Homo sapiens: one gene and its partners. The protein of the gene in region 2 purifies or fractionates together with the protein of the main gene of each other region. This does not show direct contact. Each region holds a gene or a part of one and is shown on either strand. Other genes may lie near its edges.

Evidence for each region. The genes of interacting proteins can lie anywhere in the genome.
Region 1: the proteins of KCNJ10 (region 2) and COPG1 purify together in Homo sapiens (affinity purification with mass spectrometry; 3 studies listed by BioGRID and IntAct, with this or other methods). This does not show direct contact.
Region 3: the proteins of KCNJ10 (region 2) and TMED8 purify together in Homo sapiens (affinity purification with mass spectrometry; 3 studies listed by BioGRID and IntAct, with this or other methods). This does not show direct contact.

Annotation. Positions count from the first base shown.
Region 1 is NC_000003.12:129,252,603-129,259,628, forward strand, and holds part of COPG1 (coatomer subunit gamma-1), read left to right. Parts: intron 1-20; coding exon 21-92; intron 93-273; coding exon 274-353; intron 354-2,065; coding exon 2,066-2,141; intron 2,142-2,382; coding exon 2,383-2,475; intron 2,476-3,465; coding exon 3,466-3,552; intron 3,553-4,867; coding exon 4,868-5,025; intron 5,026-5,124; coding exon 5,125-5,258; intron 5,259-7,026. UniProt on the Homo sapiens protein: The coatomer is a cytosolic protein complex that binds to dilysine motifs and reversibly associates with Golgi non-clathrin-coated vesicles, which further mediate biosynthetic protein transport from the ER, via the Golgi up to the trans Golgi network.
Region 2 is NC_000001.11:160,060,151-160,067,176, reverse strand, and holds part of KCNJ10 (ATP-sensitive inward rectifier potassium channel 10), read left to right. Parts: intron 1-7,026. UniProt on the Homo sapiens protein: May be responsible for potassium buffering action of glial cells in the brain. Inward rectifier potassium channels are characterized by a greater tendency to allow potassium to flow into the cell rather than out of it.
Region 3 is NC_000014.9:77,367,072-77,374,097, forward strand, and holds part of TMED8 (protein TMED8), read right to left. Parts: intron 6,839-7,026; exon of another isoform or gene 6,620-6,838; intron 1-6,619.

The DNA.
Region 1 (7,026 bases), on a different chromosome or scaffold from region 2:
TTCTTTCTTGATTAACACAGGGGGAGCACCTGGGGACCACGGAAGCGACCGAGGCCTTCTTTGCCATGACCAAGCTCTTTCAGTCCAATGATGTAAGTGCCTCAACCCAGCTTTCCTTGAGAGGTGGCAGCTGTAACAAGGTGGTGGGAGGGCCAAAGAGAGCTGGCCCCACCAGTCAGTGTGGGCTGCCTTTGTGGAGACAGGAGGTATCTTCTCCCAACTCTGGCCCTTGGTGAGCCCGGGCTGATAGGGCTTTTCCCACCTATCTCCCAGCCCACACTCCGTCGGATGTGCTACTTGACCATCAAGGAGATGTCTTGCATTGCAGAGGATGTCATCATTGTCACCAGCAGGCAAGTCATGGGGTTGTGGGTGGCTCTTCTGATGGGTTCCATTGACAGACCATTTTTTTCTTGTGTGTACCAGACAGTGAGACTTGGTTGCATATTGCCAGCTGCCCACCCCGTGGCAGCTTCCCTGTTACCACTGCCCACCCCATGGCAGCCTCCAGGTGTGCTGTTTCTATTTTAATTCTCTGACCTTGACTTGGACACAAATGCTTCCTTTTCTTGATTTCTCTTAGTCAACCAAACCAGCTTAGAACTTTCCCAAAGACTTTCTTGAGTATAAAGAGAGAACACAAGAAAAATAAACAAGAGAGTACAAGCGGTATACTGCTTACTAAGTGACTGGTGTCTGCTTTAAGCTAAGCAATTCAGGGACAGATGTGACTAAAGTGTAATCACTGCCCTTAAGAACTGGGGCTCAGTTCTCTTATTTCTTCCTGCCACAGTTTAAGGTTGTGGGGGTCATACATTGATTTGTAGGTTCAGTTAGAAAATATTGTCTGTCAGTCCCTGTGTGTAGCTCTGGGGATATAGCAACAAAAAAGATAGACATGGCCTCTGTAGCCCCAGAATTTACAGAGAAATAACCAGGCATCAGGCCATTAAGGTAGGGTGTAATATAGTTTATCACGGAAGTATTATGGGCTATGAGAGCAGACCAGAAGAGCATCCAGCTTGATTAGAATTACGAAAGTCCTCCCAGAGGAATGATCTAAGTGGAGTCCTGAAGGATGAGTAAGAAATAGTAGGACAGGACAGGCGCAGTGGCTCATGCCTGTAATCCCAGCACTGTATCCACAATGTAATCCACAGACTGCGATGGGTGGATCACTTGAGGTCAGGAGTTTGAGACCATCCTGGCCAACATGGTGAAACCCCGTTTCTACTAAAAATACAAAAATTAGCCAGGTGTGGTGGCGCACACCTATAATCCCAGCTACTGGGGAGGCTGAGGCAGGAGAATTGCTTGAACTGGGGAGGTGGAGGTTGCAGTGAGCTGAGATCATGCCACTTACACTCCAGCCTGGGTGACAGAACGAGACTGCGTCTCAAAAAAAAAAAAAAAAAGCCAGGAGTGATGGCTCATGCCTGTAATCCCAGCAGTTTGGGAGGCCGAGGCGGGTGGATCACAAGGTCGGGAGTTCAAGACCAGCCTGGCCAACATAGTGAAACCCCCTCTCTACTAAAAATACAAAAATTAGCCGGGTATGGTGGCATGTGCCTGTAGTCCCAGCTGCTGGGGAGGCTGAGGCAGTAGAGCTTGAGCTCGGGATGTAGAGGTTGCAATGAGCCAAGATCGCACCCCATTGCGCTCCAGCCTGGGCGACAAAGCGAGACTCTGTCTCAAAAAAAAAAAGAGTAGGACAGAGTGGAGGTGAGGGGTGAGGAATGCTACAGGCTGAGGAAACAGCACATGCAAAGGCTGGAGAGGAGTGAGCATAGCCAGTTAGGGAAGTTCAAGGAGTTACATTCAGGTCACTGGCAGTAGGAAGCTATGGAAACTTTTTAGCAAAAGCAGGGGGATGACCTGTTTGGTTTTGAGTCTTATGAAACTCCCTCCAGCAGCTGTGTGGAGTTAGGCTTGGAGGGGCAGGAATAGAGGGAGAGCACTGGTTAGGAGGCTCGTGTAGTAATCTGGGCAAGGGTGGTGTTGGGAGCTGGAGAGGAGTAAACAGGCCCAGGCTCTCTGCATGCTGACAATGCCTTCTTCCCTGCAGCCTAACAAAAGACATGACTGGGAAAGAAGACAACTACCGGGGCCCGGCCGTGCGAGCCCTCTGCCAGATCACTGATGTGAGTCGTGCCGGTTCCTCCCTGCTTCCTGGCCTCTTGATTGAGGCCTCGGCATCATCTTTTGCATTCTTTGGGGTGTCCCCTATCACTGAGCCAGGTGATGTGGGGTGGAGGCAGTGTGCAGGAGCACATGAGAAACGCTTACTTCCTCCTCATACTCATCTCTGCCCCCATTCCTGCACTCCTGAGAGCTGCCAAGGACTGACTGGATCTCCTTCCACCCTGCTCCTTTTGCCCACAGAGCACCATGCTGCAGGCTATTGAGCGCTACATGAAACAAGCCATTGTGGACAAGGTGCCCAGTGTCTCCAGCTCTGCCCTCGTGTCTTCCTTGGTGTGTAGTTGCTGCTGGAGCCCTGCTGGGGGTGGGGTAGAAAATTGAAGAAAATTTAAGAGTCACATTCCAGTAGGAAAAAAGAAAGTGTTTCTTTCTTTCTTTTTTTTTTTTTGATTGAGACGGAGTCTCACTCTGTCACCCAGGCTAGAGTGCAGCGCCACGATCTCGGCTCACTGCAACCTCTGCCGCCGGGGTTCAAGTGATTTTCTTGCCTCAGCCTCTTGAGTAGCTGGGATTACAGGCGTCTGCCACTGTGCCCAGCTAATTTTTGTGTTTTTAGTAGAGACAGGGTTTCATCATCTTGGCCAGGCTGGTCTTGAACTACAGACCTCATGATCTACCCGCCTCGGCCTCCCAAAGTGCTGGGATTGCAGGCGTGAGCCACTGTGCCTGGCCTCTCTTTCTTCTTTTTTTTTTTTTGAGACAGAGTCTCACTCTGTTGCCCAGGCTGGAGTGCAATGGCTCGATTTCAGCTCACTGCAACCTCTGCCTCCCTGGCTCAAGCGATTCACATGCCTCAGCCACCTGAGTAGCTGAGATTGCAGGTGTGCACCACCACGCCCAACTGATTTTTGTATTTTTGGTAGAGACGTAGTTTCACCATGTTGGTCAGGCTGGTCTTGAGCTCCTGACTTCAAGTGATCCACCCGCCTCGGCCTCCCAAAGTGCTGGGATTACAAAGCGTGAGCCACCGCACCTGGCCAAAATAAAGTATTTCTGTATCTGTAAGCCTGAGAGTCCCACCCTTCTCAGTGAAGACAGCCAAGAAACTCTGGGGTGATTGAAGAGAGTCGTGGGTGGATGGTGTTGACCCATGCCTTGGGGAGGGACATTGAGGGTGGGAGCATCCTGAGTTTGTCCATGGTCTCTGAGGACCAGGACAGTGGCGAGCCCCTGAGCTGTGTCTGAGGGAAGACCAGAACTGGGCCCAGAATGTGTGATGGGGACACTTCCTACCTGCCCCTTAATGTGTCCTGTTGCCCACAGCACCTGCTGAAGTGCAGCTTTGACGTGGTCAAGCGCTGGGTGAATGAGGCTCAGGAGGCAGCATCCAGTGATAACATCATGGTCCAGGTGAGATGTGAGCAAGGGAGTGATATTTAAAACACTCAGGCAGGTGGTAAGGCACTGGCCAGTTGGCATGGACACTTGCCACCGAGATCCTTGTGACCCCTGGCCATAGCAGGCTTTAATCCTTTCGTCATTGGATCATGGGAGGAATTAGGAGGTCCTGGGTTAGAGAATCCAGGGTACCACTTGGGGCGCTTGGGTTACAGACTGCTTACCAGCTGGTGCTGAAATATTCAAGTATTTTGATAACCAGCTGAGTATTGTTTTGGAGCATATGATGTGGCAAACTTGGCCAAGGCAGGCAGAGGGCCGCCTAAATTTAGGCCTTTGCCAGCCTGGCTTTGTTATGATGTGTGGAATTATCTTGATGAGGCTTTCATCCACTTTACTCTTCCTCAGTGACCTAGGACAGCCGTTCCTTTTATCTCTCTGGCTCTTGGTTTCCTTGTCTGTAAAATACGAATGAAGGTTACTGCCTCACAAAGCAGCAAGGACGAGCTGAGATCATGCATGTAACATGTGACCCATCTGGGTCATGAGTGCCTATCGGCGCTCCCTGTGTGTTTATGTATTCCCTTTATCTCTCATCTGTCTTCTCATCCTTTGCACGATTCTTGTCTTCAGGGCCAGCTGTGGCCCCTCAAAACACTTATGAGGGCCAGATAAGCTTCCCACATAGAAGGCTTCCACAGCTGCCATATCTTTGCCCCCAAATGTCGCTCCTTTAGGAAACAAAAGAGAGTATCGAGGACAGGAAATAACTATGAGACCTCACATCTTTAGAAAGGGAGTCTCTGGGCTTCTGGCCCTCCAGGCCTAGCTTTGTCAGTACCAGCCAGGAGTCTTTGGGCAAGTCAGCAAAGATTAAACTGTCTACCTTCAGGGTTGTTGTGGGTAATGCAAGATTTCATGGCTAAGGTGTCCCACACAGTGACTTACAAAACATGACAATGCTCAGGGTCTGGCTCCCACCTTCTCTCTCTCATTGTCTGATTGAAAGCACCAGGTCTCCCACATTGCTTTCATCTTTGTGCTGTTTGTTGTCCCTTTCCATATCTGTATTTATGCTACCTGTTAGGGCTCTTGCCGAAGCAGGGGTGGGAACAAGAACCACAGATATACTTCTGTGGTTTGTGAAGCATTGTGTGGAGGGCTGTGTACACAGAGTACCTGGGGCAGTTGTCACAGCCACTCTGTGTGGTAGCTGCTACTGTGCCCATCTTAGAAATGAGAAGGCTGAAGGACCCACCCAGGGCCACACAGCCAGTATACCCAAAAGTCATACATTTGTACTCTGTTGCTGTCTCCTGTCCTATAGTACCACGCACTAGGGCTCCTGTACCATGTGCGTAAGAATGACCGCCTAGCCGTCAATAAGATGATCAGCAAGGTCACACGGCATGGCCTTAAGTCTCCCTTTGCCTACTGCATGATGATCCGGGTGGCCAGCAAGCAGCTGGAAGAGGAGGATGGCAGGTAACGGCTCTCATCTCTCACCAGCTAGATGATGCCTCACTCATCCTACCATGCTGGGCCACCCCCAACGTTTTCTTGCCACCCTATGTTCTTTTGTAGCCGTGACAGCCCACTGTTTGACTTCATCGAGAGCTGCTTGCGCAACAAGCACGAGATGGTGGTGTATGAAGCCGCCTCGGCCATCGTCAATCTGCCAGGCTGCAGTGCCAAAGAGCTGGCCCCGGCTGTGTCAGGTCACTGGGCATTCCTTCACCCAGCCTCACATGTTTATGCTTGCTGGGAACTAGGCCTGGGTTCCCGGGCTAGGAGAAAGAAAGAAAATGCTCTTAACAAGTGTTAAGGAGTCTGTACCTAGGAAGCACCTGCCCCAGACACTATGCTGAGTCCCCACTTGTATCACGTTTTGGTGGTGGGCTGCTGTTAGTTCCATCTGACTGCTGAAGAGGCTGAGGTAAGGCTCGGGTCCACTCTGGAGCCTGTCAGGTTGGCTGGCCACAGGAGGAGGCCTGGTGGAGGAACCCAGGATCTGTGAAACTGGTGCATGTGAAGTGGGGCTGCACTTTTCCAGGTGAAGGAGAGAACAGTATAGAGGGTCGTTCTGAGCCTCCAGCTCCAGCACTGGAGCAGGGCAGCCTGGGTTAGAGCCCTGGCTCTGCCCCTTACCAACTGGGCAAGCCTGGCAAGGCCGCCCATCCTCTCCATGCCTTCCTTTTCTTTTCTCAGATGTGGATGATAGATCATGCCTATTACATAGGGTTATATAGCCAGAAAATGTGTGATCTAGACAAATTGCTTAGAAGGCAACATGTTTGTTGTTTGCCGTTTGCTGTTTTTTGTTTTTGCTTTTTGAGACGGAGTCTCACTATGTCGCCCAGGCTGGAGTGCAGTGGTGCGATCTCAGCTCACTGCAACCTCTGCCTCCCAGGTTCAAGCGATTCTCCTGCCTGAGCCTCCCGAGTAGCTGGGACTACAGGCGCCCACCACCACGCCTGGCTAATTTTTGTATTTTTAGTTGAGATGGGGTTTCACCATATTGGCCAGGCTGTTCTCGAACTCCTGACCTCATGATCCGCCCGCCTCGGCCTCCCAAAGTGCTGGGATTACAGGCGTGAGCCACTGCGCCCAGCCGTTGTTTGCTGTTATTAAGGGGAATCCAGCAGCCTTGAGTCCTGGAGTCTTTGGTGTCTCCTCTGTGCAGGGCCCTGCTCTGGGTGTGGGAATACCCTGTCAGGGAGGAGAAAGCCTATGAAGAGGTGCAAAGTGGTTGGTACTGGAAAGTGGATATGTTGAGAGGCTAGAAAAGGAGAGGTGCTTAGGGTGAGAAACCTGGATTCAAAGTGGAAGAGAAGAGGGGAGTGTTTTAGAACAGGCCCATGGAAAGCAAAGATGTTGTGGCAGGAGAGTTAGATTTGCAGGTTTTGAGAAATGATTGGGCCTCTTGTTTTTCTATTATTCTCTACTATAACAGTGTAAACTTGGTCAGGCAAACAGATGGAGTTCATGTTTGGAGAGAGAAGTCTCCTTTCCTCCTTAGAAATGAAGAAAGAATGAACTGCTGGGCACGGTGGCTCACGCCTGTAATCCCAGCGCTTTGGGAGGCCGAGGCAGGGGGATCACCAGGTCAGGAGTCCGAGGCCAGCCTGACCAACATGGTGAAACCCCATCTCTACTAAAAATACAAAAATTAGCCGGGCGTGGTGGTGCGCATCTGTAATCGCAGCTACTCATGAGGCTGAGGCAGGAGAATCACTTGAACCTGGGAGGTGGAGGTTGCAGTGAGCCGAGATCGCGCCACTGCCCTCCAGCCTGGGCGACAGAGGGAGACTCTATCTCAAAAAAAAAAAAAAAAAAAAGAAATGGAAAAAGAACTAATGAATTCAGTCACTGATTTGGGTATTCATTCATTCTTATTATATCCCCCATATTTCCAGAATAATGAAAGATGTAAATAAAGTAGGGTCTTCAAAATAAGCATTAAGAAAAATTTTTTTTGAGTATTAG
Region 2 (7,026 bases):
AAGGGAGGGGCTGGCTCTGGAATGTGAGAGAGAAGTAAGAACAGAACTTTGTGGCATGGAGAAGGAGGTTGGAGAAGCAGGAGCTAGAAGAGGACTGAATCAGACCTCAAGCCTCCAACAAGGTGCAGCACAGAAAGGGTATACATGGCCATTGTGCAACTTTTCCGATGGCACAACACCTGGGGAAAGGATTGTGGCTGCAGCTAGAAGGACTTAGGTTAGATCTCAGGAAGCACATCCTAGAAAAGGAAAGACATTTGAAATGGAGACTGGGAAGGAAAGAGAGACCACTTTCTGGACCAAAAAAACCAACCAAAACAAAACAAAAACCACCAACAAAATCCCCAAACACAGAAGCCCATCCTTAAAGCTTCCGAGAGGAGTGATGGAGCTCAGAGTGCAGGGATTATTGTGACAACTGTCAGGGGCCTCCCCTGGGTGGCTGCTGCACCTCTCTCTTGCTGTTCCAGGGCTACTTTCCGCTCTGAGAGACAGCAGGCACTATGGTTAAGAGCATGGCCTTGGAGTCTGACTTTGTGGGATTCGGTCCTGGTTTACCACTTAGTAGCTAAGGAAGTCCCATCCTCACAATAGGGCTCATAACTGCTGTGAGGATGCACAGTGACTACCGTAAGGGGCTTGGAATGGTCCTTAGTCTGTAAAAAGTGGAGTTGTGGGCCATTGCTTTTCTCCCACCACTCTAATGTTTTCTACTGTGTCATCTTTCCTTGTTCCTGGGCTTTGTCCCAGCCCTTCTTTGTGGGTTTTGCTTTGTTTTGTTTTGAGATTCTGTCCTAGGTTTTTTCTTCCCACCCTTCTGGAGTTTGGGAAGGTAGAAGAATTATCAAGCAGTTTAAGATGCATTTCCTTCCTTGATTCCAATAGGCTGGGCATCACTTGAGGTGGGGTCTCCACACCCACAGCCCCTGCTTTCCACAAGTTTTTGCCAAGCAGATGTCCTGTCTTCAGATTCAATAAATGAGAACTGAGTGGTTGAGCTTTCACCAAATAGTCTCTTTCCCCATTCTCAGCAACTTCTCTTTCAGCCAAAGACTTCTGTCAGAGACTTCTTCTGTCGGTCAAGACAACCCCCACATCTCATTCCTGCTCCCATGGTCCTGCCTATCGCTCTTGTATTCTTCATCCTGCCTCTCCCTCTCCCGGCCCAGGTTTGCCCCCACAACTTCTCTCAGGTTTATATGCCCTTCTCTTCTTGTGTCTCCTGATTGGCTTGTTCATCCCATCAGCCTGGATGCCCACAGCAGCCTCCTTAATGACCTCCCTGACTCCAGCCCCCTCTCTCCTCGACTCCTTCCCTGTTACCCTATAATGAAATTATCACTGGAATTGTCATCATGAAGCATCAGTTTTATCTTGCCCTTTCTCTACCCAGACACATCTGTTGGCATTGGATAAAAATTTCCCAATCACAGGCTTCAAGAGACTTTATGCCTTTCTCCCATCCCCTCCAGCCCCATATCTTGTGGAACTGCACTCTTCAGACCCTGATCCTGGGGAGCATATCCCAGGCAGTCTCTGAGCCATGCTCCTCCCCACACTCTGGACCCTCACAAAGGCCATTCCAAGTCTCACCCCTCCCGCAGATCTCTATTCTCCTGTTTCCCTCTCTGCTCTGCCATCTTGCTTGTTACTTGCATCTGCAACTTGGCCCAGGGTTCTCCATGCATGGCGATGTTGGAGGAGACTTGTCTCCCTCATTAGCCGGGGGTTTCCTCTAGGGTGAGGCCTGTACCTCCGTCAGATTGGCAAAGGCATCTCTTCTCTCTCTGGACCCTCTGGCACCCAGCAAAGGGCCTGCCTCCTAAGACACAGAGTAGCTACTGTCCAGTTTGACTCTAGGTAGGAAACATTTCTGATCGCTTATTCTTGGGGAAGGAGCCTGACTTTGGAGGTTTATGTGAGCATCCTGCAGCAGGGTGTGTATAGGATCCTATTATCTAATTCTATAGGAGATCTCAAGAGAAACCCCTCTCCTACTAACGACCCCATCCTGTAGACATGGCTTCACCCTAAGATTACAAGCCCTAGAACCCCCAATTTATAGTCTTCTAAGCATTGTTGCTCCACCCACCCCCCCAACACAAATGCAGGTATGTAGGCCCCAGAGAGCCTTTCTCCCCTCACCAGGGCAGTCTGACTCCAGCCTGAGGCCGGGCTTGTCAGCAGCATCGTCTGGAATGAAAAAGGGGGATAAAGGTCAGAGTCTAGTCTGAGGCAGCCCCATTGTCCTGAGCATACCTCTGAGCAGGGGCTTGCAAGGTGGCAGACATGTGAGGTCACCTCCCAAGTGGGGTATAGGTCTGACCTCTTAGCACTGCATTCTCCCTGGACCAGCCTCCTCAGCTCCACTTCTGATCCCAGTTCCAACTGGTAGAGCCAGGCACACTCCTTCTCCACGTGTCTAAACCTCCCGGTTGACCCTGTGATAAAAAAGATATAGGCAACTGGTAAGAGGAGAGGGTGAGTGTATTAGAGTCTAGAGCACTGGTTTTTAAACTTTTTGACCTCAGGACCACTTTACATTCTAAAAAGTTACTGAAGACTCCAAAGAGCTTTGGTTTGTGTGGGTTCTATCTATGAACATTTACTGTGTTAGAAATGAACACTGGGACACATGAAATAATTATTAATTTTTGCATGTTAACAAAATGACGTATTTTTAATGAAAAACAGCTGTATTAAAGTAAACAAAAAGTTAATAAGAAGAGTGACATTGTCTTATATTTTCACAAGTCTTTTTAAACATCTGGCTTAATCAAAGACAGTTGCTTTCTCATCTGCTTCTGCATTTAGTGTGTTGCAATATCATAGGTCATGTACCTTCTGGAAAACTCTACTGAACACTGTGAAATAATGAAAGTGAAAAGGGCAAATAATGTATTGTTAGCATTATTATGAAGATAGGTTTGACTTTGTAGAGCCTCCGAAAGGGTCTCAGGAACCCTCCGAAAGGGTCCAGGGACCATACTTTGAGAACTGCTAGTCTAGAGGAACCTTAGAAGACAGTTTCAAAAACCTGGGCCAATTTGAATATCCTCGTTGATTTCCTTCAGCTGCCATGGTCTTTTGAATGTTCTCACCAGGGAGGTAGTATGGGGTAGTGGTTCATCATGTTAAGTTCTGCCTCTGTTCTACTACTCACTAGCTATGTGGCCATGGGCAAATTATTAATATCTCTGTGCTTCAGTTTTCTCATCTATAAAATGGGACTTTAAAAAGCACCCACCTTTAGAGTTGTTGAGAATTAAATGACATAATAGGAAAGGGCTCAGCGTAGAGCTCAATGATGTGAGCTCTCATTAAATTCCGGAGCCTTGCCCCTGAATCCACTGCGCATTGTCCCGAAGGCAGGGAGCTGCAGAGGAGATCCATCCAATGCTACACATAGGAGCTCGGCCCAGAGAGGGAAAGTGACCTGTGCAAGTTCCCAGAGAGAGTTGACAGGGTTGTTGGGCCCCGAACCCAGGAGTTCTAAGGCCTAGCTCCATCTCTGCTCTCCCCGCCAGAATTTTTTTGTGGAGAGTGGAGGAGCAAGGTCCTAAGACGGGGAAAGAAGCAGACTTTACCTTTCTTTTCCCCAGCAATCTCAGGTGAGCCCAGGGCCAGGGCAGTACAGTGGGAAGCCTTGAGGGCAGACAGCAGGGAGAACTTCCGATACTGACAGCAACTGAAAAGAGGAGAAAGAAAGCTAGGAAGACATTTTCAAGCCCAGAGATTGTTCTGTCTTGCCGTGTGGGGAGCAGTTCTGCAAAGTGTCCCCGGCCTTCTCTTCCTGGGGCTCGTAGGAAGTCTGTGATTGGGCAACCCTGCTTCTCATGAGGTGCTCAGTCCCGCTCACTGCCCTCCTCTCAGCTCTCCCACCACCCAAGGCCCAGGAGCCCCTCCCCAGATCATGCCTTCTGGCCCTGCCCTTTGTGCTGAGGCACCACAAGGCACAACATGGTGCCTTGGAAAAGCCAGTTGGTGGTGCTGAGGGCATTAATGAGGATAGGGGTGCCTGCTGGGGTTCCCTGGGCAGGAGAAGGGAAGCTTCTCCTCACAGATTGTAGAACAGGAGGAGGCAGATGGGGAGTTAGACATATACTGGGAAGAGCTAGTCCTGGCTCATTGGCCCTTCAGTCAAATTCCCCTGAGCTGGGCTTCCAGCTCCACCTTCACTAGTTCAGGTTGAATTCCCTGGAAGAGCACAGGTGGCAGGCGACTCTTGTCCCTAACCCCTGCTTCCCCTGTAGTAGCTTCTTCAGCCTCCAGAACCAGAGCAGGTGGAGATCTCAAAGAAGGTGGCACCCCAAGGAAGTAGAACCCCAAAGACCCCAAACCCTGAGCACATGCCCTTCCTGCTGGGGTTGGGGAACTTGCTATGTATTACTCTGTTTTTCTTCTCCTGCCCACAAAATTCCTTTGCATAGATGGTAAAACTGAGGCAAAACGTGGGAGGACTTAGACTGCCCACCCACTTCTTTCTAGAGCCCAGCCTGGGACCAAGGGGCTTGGCATCCCGCAGCCCCTCCCGCTCCACTCCTACCAGTCCCCGTGGCTTTTTCCATTTGGAAAGTCCTTTCTGGCGAGTGGCAGGTTTGGAGGCCCTAGTCTAGTCTCCTCCCCTGTCTCCTGGGCAGTGCCCCCAGGGGAGCCCCTGTGGGCCAAGATCTCCTTAGTCTCAGTCCTGGGCCCCCCTCACCCTCTACCAGCAGTCCCCCAGCTCCCGCCCCTCGGCTGTGGGACAGGGAGAGGGCTGAGGGGCTGGCTCTGCATACTAATGTCCTGCCCATTGTCAAAGCCCCTTTGTGCCAGGGAGCTCCATTGAGGCGGCTCCGGGGCAGGCACAATGGGGGCTCTGTCCCCTAGTTCCCCCAAACAGTCACCTGCTTTCAGAGCCTTCCCCACCACCCCCCCTTCGCCCCAGTGTCCGGAGGGCCCAGAGAGCACGGGGGAGTGGGCCCTGGGCCAGGGGGGATGGGCAGGAGGTGACTCCCCCACTCTCTGGGCAGGCTGGGGAGATGGGCATTTGACAGGGCAGGCTGCAGAGGGCACACAGAGGGGAGAGGCCCTAGGCTCACAGGGGCAGGGGCAGTCTGTGGAGGAGTTGGAATGCAGGTTCTCTGAGGCCTGAGAAGGGGAAGGGGCACTCAGAGCCTGCCCACTTCTCGGTTCCGTATGCCCAGCCTGGACCTGTGGCTGCCACCTCTCCTCCTCCCACTACAGGACTCCCCGGGGCTCATATATGCAGAGACACACAGGCATACACTCATCTATGCGGCCCCACACACGGCTCCCAACACACACCCAAACGGATGTGCCCAGACACAACACACTGACCCCAGCACACAGATCGCACGTCCACAACACCACCTCCTGGCATATGCACCTGCACACCCACCCTCCCTCCACCCCACCCCCCTTTCCCTTTTGCACCCCCTCCACGGCCGCAGGCATCTCAGCACCATGTCCCTCCCCCCCATGCCCTTGCTGCCCTCTGCTGCTCTGACACTGGTTATAACAAGTTTGCACTTGTTGTGACCTTAAGAATGTGGCCCTGGGGCTAAGAATGTCCCGCTGCCCCAGACTGCACCTGCTTATACGTTAACCATGGACACAGCCTCTTGCTGCACTCTAAGCAATGCTCCCATTCCTGCCTCAACCATGGAAGCAGTTAGGTGGGCCAGGCCCCCCACCCCAGAGCTGAGTCAAGTACCCTGGACTGAGCTCTATGTGAATAACTAAAGCCCCACCTGGCCTCGCTGGCACAGGTCCAGTGTGTCCGTCTTTGCATTTGCCCAGGGCACATAGATATTTCCTAGCCCTTCCTGGCCCTGGGAGGTAGATGGAACAGTTATCATTTTCCCAGCAAGGCTCTGAGAGGTAAGATGATGGTGTCCAGGCAGCTGGTGGCAAGTCTGGGACTAGAATGGAGGTCTCTCACCGCTAGTTTTTTTGTGTTTTTCCCCCAACTATTTGTCTCTTGGTTTCACTCAGATGACCCCACCCCCAACCCTATCTACAATTCCAACAGAGCTGTCTTTTAGCCACCTTTTTTTGGGAAGGAGTGGGGGCATGGTGAGGGGAAGGGGTGGGGAGAAGAACGGGTCTAGGAGCCTTAAGTGGGCTTCTGGGTCTAGAAAGAACCTCCGAAGGTCACTTTGACCCTTGCACTACCCCTAGGCAGAGTGAGCCTACCTCCTTTCACTTCCCACCCTCCTACCGGCCCCACTCCTGCTACGAACTCTGGATCACTGGAAAGTAACCCCACAGCCTTCTTAGCTAGGGTTTGGAGTTGGGGATCTCTATCAATTATAAGTCCTTCATGCTGCCTAGTACTGGCCTTTCCAGTTATTATCCTACGTCTGCACGAGGATCTGTAGGCTGTATCTACGGCTCACCTGCTATTCTGGTCCAGAGCATCTTCTAGCAGTTGGGAGCAGATGCCCTAAAAAGGGAAGAGAGGAAGGCCCATTGGGATCCCAGAGACTTGAGGGCTGACTGCACAGTGGTGTGCTGGGGCCTGGGAGGGTGGATGGGGTCACAGTTGCAGAAACTCTGTTAGATAGAGAACTAAGCTGATATTGGTTTGCTCATCAGCAAATATTATTGAGTGCTAATCTCCATGATGTTTCCTCCCATCAAAATTGCATGGGAGAACCTCAGGGCCCTTCTACTCCTTCTCCTTTCCCCTCATCTAAAATGCTTCCCCTCTGGCTACTGGATTCTCCTTAAGCCGCCTCATCCATCTGTCTTCCTTCATGCAGGAACACACCTCCCCCAGCCCTTATACTCTGGTGTGATTCTTTTGCTCCAAATGTTCCCTACTGGAGAAAGAGAACTGCTCAATGTATGTAACTTCAGCTTTCCCTGCTGTGCTCGGGCAGTTAGTTACTATAGGAGACAGAGGACAGTGAGACACTCACCTCTGAATCTAGTTCTGTATCTAGTAAGTGTCCTCATGCCATCCCTACCCCATCCTCCTTCTTAAGGGAGGAATGTGGATAAGGAATAAGTAAAAAGTTG
Region 3 (7,026 bases), on a different chromosome or scaffold from region 2:
CCGCCTCTACTAAAAATACAAAATTAGCCAGGCATGGTGGTGTGTGTCTAATCCCAGCTACTTGGGAGGCTGGGGCAGGAGAATCGCTTGAACCTGGGAGGCAGAGGTTGCAGTGAGCCGAGATCACACCACTGCACTCCAGCCTGGGTGACAGAGCAAGACTCTGTCTAAAAAAAAAAAAAAAAAAAAAAAAAAACTTTTTAAATCTTTTCTATTGTGAAATATAACGCAAATGTAGAAGAGTACACAAAAGTGTATACCTCAATAAATTATCACAAACACCACCCAGGCCAAGAAATAGAACACTTCTAACACTCCAGAAGCACCACTCATGACCTTCCCAATCATTACCTGATCCTTTCCTCCTTAAGGTAAGAAAACCACTATCCCAACTATGGACATTATTTCCTTGCTTTCTTTATAGCTGGGCCACCTAAGTAAGCATTCCTAAACACTGTTGCTTCACTGGGCCTGTTTTCTGAATTCCATATAAAGGAAAATGAAAAAGAATGTTTTCTTTTGGGTCTTGCTTATTTCAGTCATTATTTTGATTGATGCATCCATCAAAATCTGCATCAAAAAATGCACCCATGTAATTGTAGGTAGGTTTGTTAACTTTCTTTCTTTTTTTTTTTTTCTGAGACAGAATCTCACTCTTGTTGCCCAGGCTGGAGTGCAATGGTGCAATCTCGGCTCACTGCAACCTCCACCTCCTCGCTTCAAGCGATTCTCCTGCCTCAGCCTCCTGAGCAGCTGGGACTACAGGCGCCCACCACCACGCCCAACTAATTTTTGTATTTTTAGTAGAGACGGGGTTTCACCATGTTGGCCAGGTTGGTCTCAAAATCCTGAGCTCAGGTGATCCGCCTTCCTCAGCCTCCCAGAGTACTGGGATTACAGGCATGGGCCACCGCACCCAGCCAGTTTGTTCACTGTCATTGCTGTACGTTATTCCATGAATCCACCATGAGCTATCTATCTATTGTTGATGATACTTAGGTTAACTCCAGTTTGGGGCTATTATGAATAATGCTGCTATGAATATTCTTGTGTCTTGGCTACAGTGCATACATTTATGTTGGATATAAATGTCAGAATGGAAACGGTTAAGTCATAGAAATTTGAATGTTAAATTTCAGTAGATAATGCCGAACTATTTTCTAAAGGGGTTGTACCAAATATAATGCTACCAGCATTGTAGCATCATTTCATTACTCTGGACCTTCTCTGACACTTGGTCATGTTAAAATTTTTTTGGGGGGCCATTCTGGTAGATGTATGCTAATTTAGTTTGTATTTCACCAATGACTCGTATTTCTTGGCCATTTAAAAATCTTCTTTTGTGAAGTGCCTCTCCAAGTCTCTTGCCAATTTTATTACTGGATTGTCCTTTTTATTATTTATTTATTTATTTATTTATTTTTGAGACGGAGTCTCACTCTGTCACCCAAGTTGGAGTGCAGTGGCATGGTCTCGGCTCACTGCAACCTCCGCCTCCTGGGTTCAAGAGATTCTTCGGCCTCAGCCTCCCTAGTAGCTGGGACTACAGGCACGTGCCACCACACCCAGCTAATTTTTGTATTTTAGTAGAGACAGGGTTTCACCATATTGGCCAGGCTGTTCTCGAACTCCTGACCTCATGATCCGCCCACCTTGGCCTCCCAAAGTGCTGGGATTACAGGCATGAGCCACCAAGCCCAGTCCCTTTTTATTATTTATAGGAGTTTTAGATACAAACCTTTTGTCAGGTATATGTATTATAATTACCTGCTTCCACTCTGTGACATGACTTTTCCCATTTAATGGTGGCCTTTGATGAACCAAAGTACTTTTGTGTACTCAAAATTTATCAAATTTGCCTTCCTTAGTCTTTGTATGTCCTGTCTAAGATGTCTTTCACTATATTGAGATCCGAAAATATTCTCCCATATCCTATAGGTAGGTGCTTATGTACTACCTTTCACATACTGTTCTATAATCTACCGAGTTGATTTTTTGTGTATGATGTGTGAGGTAAAGATTACGTTTCTTTACTTTCCTTTCTCTTAGAATATTCAATTGTCCCAGAAACATTTACCTTACCTTACCCACTGCTCTATGTTAACAATCTTTGTTGCAAAGCAAGTGTCCGTATAAACATGTTTCTAAGCTTTTGATTCTATTCCTAGAGCCTGACTACTCTTTAAAAACTTTAAAATAAGTCTTGATGTTGGATGGAACAAATCTTTCCCTGTTGTCTTATTCAAGAGTGTCTTTGCTATTTGTGGCCTTCTATTTCTATATGTATTTTAGAACCAGCTTGTCAAAGCCACCCAAAAATCCCAATTCATGAACTTAGCTGTTTCTGAAGCTGAGTTGCACTCCCTGCAATGACCTACTTTTAGGGCATGGCCTTTCATGGCCCTAACCCAAAGGAAATGGAGTTCACCAGGCTCCCCCTTGACGGGTCCTGAACACTAATCCATTTCCTGTTACTTTAGTTCAAAGAGGCACTTTTCATGACCTTGTCACTCAGCTTCCCCACTCAGGAATCCAGCATGTACCCTCAGGAGACAAAAGAGCCCCAAAATAGACTCTTGTCCTTGGATCTCTATAGCTCTCACATGGATCACAGCTAGGTAATTCTTCATGATCTTTCTATCTCTCCAGTATCTTCCAGCAGATGTTTATATTTCACCCATATTTTCTAATTGTCCCTGATGAGAGATAATTACCTAGTCTGCTATTACTGAAAACAGAAATCCATATTGCCTATTTACCCATATCAATCTGAATATACCTTAGTGAATAAAATAGAAACAAAAATAGTTCTGCCCTCTGCCAGGCACGGTGGCTCATGCCTGTAAGGGAGGCGGAGGCGGGAGGGCCGAGGCGGGCAGATCACAAGGTCAGGAGTTCGAGACCAACCTGGCCAGCATGGTGAAACCCCATCTCTACTAAAAATACAAAAATTAGCCGGGCGTGGTGGCACATGCCTGTAATCCCAGCTACTCGGGAGGCTGAGGCAGGAGAATCGCTTGAACCCAGAAGGCGGAGGTTGCAGTGAGCCGAGATCACACCACTGCACTCCAGTCAAGGCGACAGAGCGAGACTCCGTTTCAAAAAAAAAAAAAAAAAAAAAATTCTGCCCTCTCTCTGTCATTGATTAATAATATCAGTTTATCTACTATGTCTATCCCCCTTTGGCTTATCCTGTCCTTTGGATCGTAATGAAGACTTCAAAAAGGTTAAATTTTTAGACAGAAATGAAACTAGCACAAAAATAATGAAAGACAGTAGTGGATTTAAAGAATAACAAAATTAATCTCTAAGGAGACTTATAACCTTTTATAAAAAAATTCACTGAGAGAAAAAGGTCTAGAAAATGTCAGTTCCTGATGAGCAGAAACAGAATACAGACCTATAGAAAGGCTCTTATTTAGGATATAGACATAGTGAAGTCTCATGCCAAGTTTGTGTGTGTGTCTATCTATGTACACATATATTTATATATTTTAAAGACTATTTTTATTAACTATTTCTGAATAATTTATCCACATTATTCAAAATTCAAAAAGCATATAAGTATACAGTGAAAAATTTCCTCCCATGTCAGTCCCTACCTCCAAAAGCAATCAATGTTATTTGGTTTTGTGTAGTCTTCCAAAGATGTTTTATGCATATAAAAAAAAGTGTGTGTGTGTGTGTGTGTGTGTATACTTTTTCACTTTTTTACACAAAAAATGGGCATGCTTAGGCGTGGTGGTGCGTGCCTGTAATCCCAGCTACTTGAGAGGCTGATGCAGGAGAATCGCTTGAACCCGGGAGGCGGAGGTTGCAGTGAGCTAAGATCACGCCATTGCACTCCAGCCTGGGCAACAGTGCGAGACTCTGTCTCAGAAAAAAAAAAAGGTCGGGGGGAGCATGCTGGACATACTACTGTGTACTTTGTTCTTTCCACTTATATCTCAAAGACCTTTCCATAACTGCACATGAAAAGCTTCTTCATTCTTTTCTACAGCTGATTAGTATTTCATTGGGTGAATATTCCATAATGTATTACCATTACAAACAATGCCATAATAACCTTGTATCTATGTCATTAAACAGGAGAATAAATAAATCTATAATTCCTGGAAAGAATGAGTCAAAGGGGCATATATTGTAATTCTGATGGATATTGACAAGTTGCCCTCCACAGAATCTGTACCAATTTACAATCTCATTAGCAAAGCATGAGAGTGTCTGCTTCTGCACACCGACCAACAAAGTGAGTTAGCAAACTACCAAGTGTAGTTAGGATTTCCAATTCCCTTATTATGATTTAGGTTGAGCATTTTTCACATGGTAAGCACCACTTCTCATAGCATTTTAACAACTTAATGTATACTGGAAAAAAATATGCTTTTGATTTTTTTTCTTTCCATCCCATAAGGAGTTGAGCTTTTGATTTTTAACTTTAAAGGAATGCCCTAAATTATTTTTAATTTTAAAGAATGCCCTAAATTACATAAGAACTACTGGTAAAACAACTTATAATTGGATTCAGAGAGGCAGGAAGTAAGAAAAGGAGAAAGAAAAACATAACTTTATTTCCAGAAGTATAAAGTGTGGGAGATGCAGCGCTGTTTCAGTGAGAGAGAATTATGAGCACAGCCTTTTAGGTTTCCTGAAGTTCTTCAGTGAAATTTAAGCCACTATGCAGAAGAAAAAGCCAATTTTCCTATAGTATAGCTTTTATTATATTAGCCAAATATAAGCCAATTCTGAAAGTATTCCTAGAAGAGATCAGAGAAATCAGGCCAGACTTTGCAAATTTAGATGGTATGTGGGGAAATGTTTTTTATTTTTAAAAATATGTATTCTAGTATATATTAAGAAAAATGGATATATCAAACTAGTAATATCGTAGGTATTATTTAGAATGAAACTTTTAAGTGTCAATCAAAATGTCAATTAAATGTCAATGTCAAGAAAAAATAGTAAATAACTAATACTGTAACGGTATTCTCCAGTGTGGCAAAGTCATTACCATGGTTCCTCAGTGGCCGAAATCTCGGAAACAATGAACGGAGGAGGAAAAATGGAAGCTTAACAATAACTTAATTTATCATTGATGGCCACTAAAGCAAAGGTGAGAGAGAAAAAAGGAACTTCCTTAAAATAACTTATTTTATATTTGACAACTTTTTAAATGTGCATTTTCTTTCTACATTACCAAAGGGTCTGGTTTCAGACATTCTGATCATGCTAGGGATTCAAACTTACTGTGTACTTCGTACTTTCCCTACAAGGAGAACCAAAAAGCAGGTTTTTTTCAAAAGCATTTGAATATCAGGTCAGGGTTCTTTAGAACAGGCCTCAGAGGATTTCCCCCTCAGTAAACAGGCTGCAAAGAGATAATTAGCCTGTCATTTTAGATTCCAGTGCAGAAGAACTAAAAGCAGGCTATGTGGTTACAGACTCAAGAGGCTTAAACGAAAACAAATTAAGTGAGTTTATGTTCCAACCAAATCTAGTGACCATGTGATCCAATTTCTCTTCAGCCCTTGAGTGGGACATGCTCCTGAGAGGTCACTCAGATTGTGCACCTTTGGTTATACTGTTTAGACTGAATCACGACATGAATAATCAACTATCTGACTAATCGACTATCTGGACACTAAAAACACAACCACTGTAAGAAAAAGAAAGCCACAGGCAGACAAAATGTTAACATTTTGACATAAAACCACAATAGAAAACTAAAAAACATCAAGGCTGTTTGTCATTGACTCCCTATTATTCTTACCATTCAACATGGTAGCCACCAAATTTTGAATTTTAATTCATGCACATTGAAATAGCCACAGATATTATATATATATATATATATATATATATATATATATATATATATATATTTTTTTTTTTTTTTTTTTTTTTTTTTTTTTGAGACAGCGTCTCCCTCTGTCGCCCAGGCTGGAGTGCAGTGGTGCAATCTCGGCTCACTGCAACCTCTGCCTCCTGGGTTCAAGTGATTCTCCTGCCTCAGCCTCCTGAGTAGCTGGGACAGATATGAAATATTTTCATCACTGCAAAAAGACTTATTGTAATATTCTAACTTCTACCTTAGAACCATGAACAAGTTTACCTGACCTGTTTCCATCCTCAACATCTAAATGTATTGATAGCTCTGGGGGACATACACACCAAACTAAGTTCTACTGCTGACTTCAGGATCACAATAGAGTTTTATTTTCCTTTAAACTTAAAAAAAAAACAAAAACAAAAACAAAAAAACCTGCCTTTAAGTGATGCAACAAGTATGCCTCAGATAGTTTCATAATTAAAGAATGATTTATCTCTCCTCTGGGGAACTGAAGAACCCAGGTGCCTCAAATAAAAGACTATTAAAAACAATTACAATGCATAAAACAATAAGAACACCATGACCACTGGAGAGCTTAGTTCATAAGAACATAAATCCTTTCCTTCCTTTTCACCAAAACCTCAGCTAACAAACATGAAGACACTCAATAGGTATTCTCTGCAGAGAACACTTTTAAAAAACAAGTTATGGTTATTCTGGATAATGACACATTCCTGCTTTGAAGGAATAAGATACACCAAAAAACCAAAACCCTTAACTCAACAATACCTGATATGGCTTGGATGTTTGTTCCCTCCAAATCTCACGCTGAAATGTGATTTCCAATGTTAGAGGTGAGGTCTGGTGGGAGGTGACTGGATCGTGGAGATGAATCCCTCATGAATGATTTGGCATCATCCTCTTGATGATAAGTGAGTTCTCACTCAGTTAGTTCACCTGAGATATGGTTGTTTAAAAGAGTCTGGGACCTCCTCCCGTCTCTCTCTCTCTCACTCCCAACTCTCGCCATGTGACATACCTGCTCCCCCTTTCAGTATGATTCTAAGCTTCTTGAGGCCCTCACCAGAAACAGATACCAACACCACACTTCCTGTACACCCTGCAATACCATGAGCCAATTAAAACTCTTTTCTTATAAATTACTCAGTCTCAGGTATTCCAAATGGACTAACAGA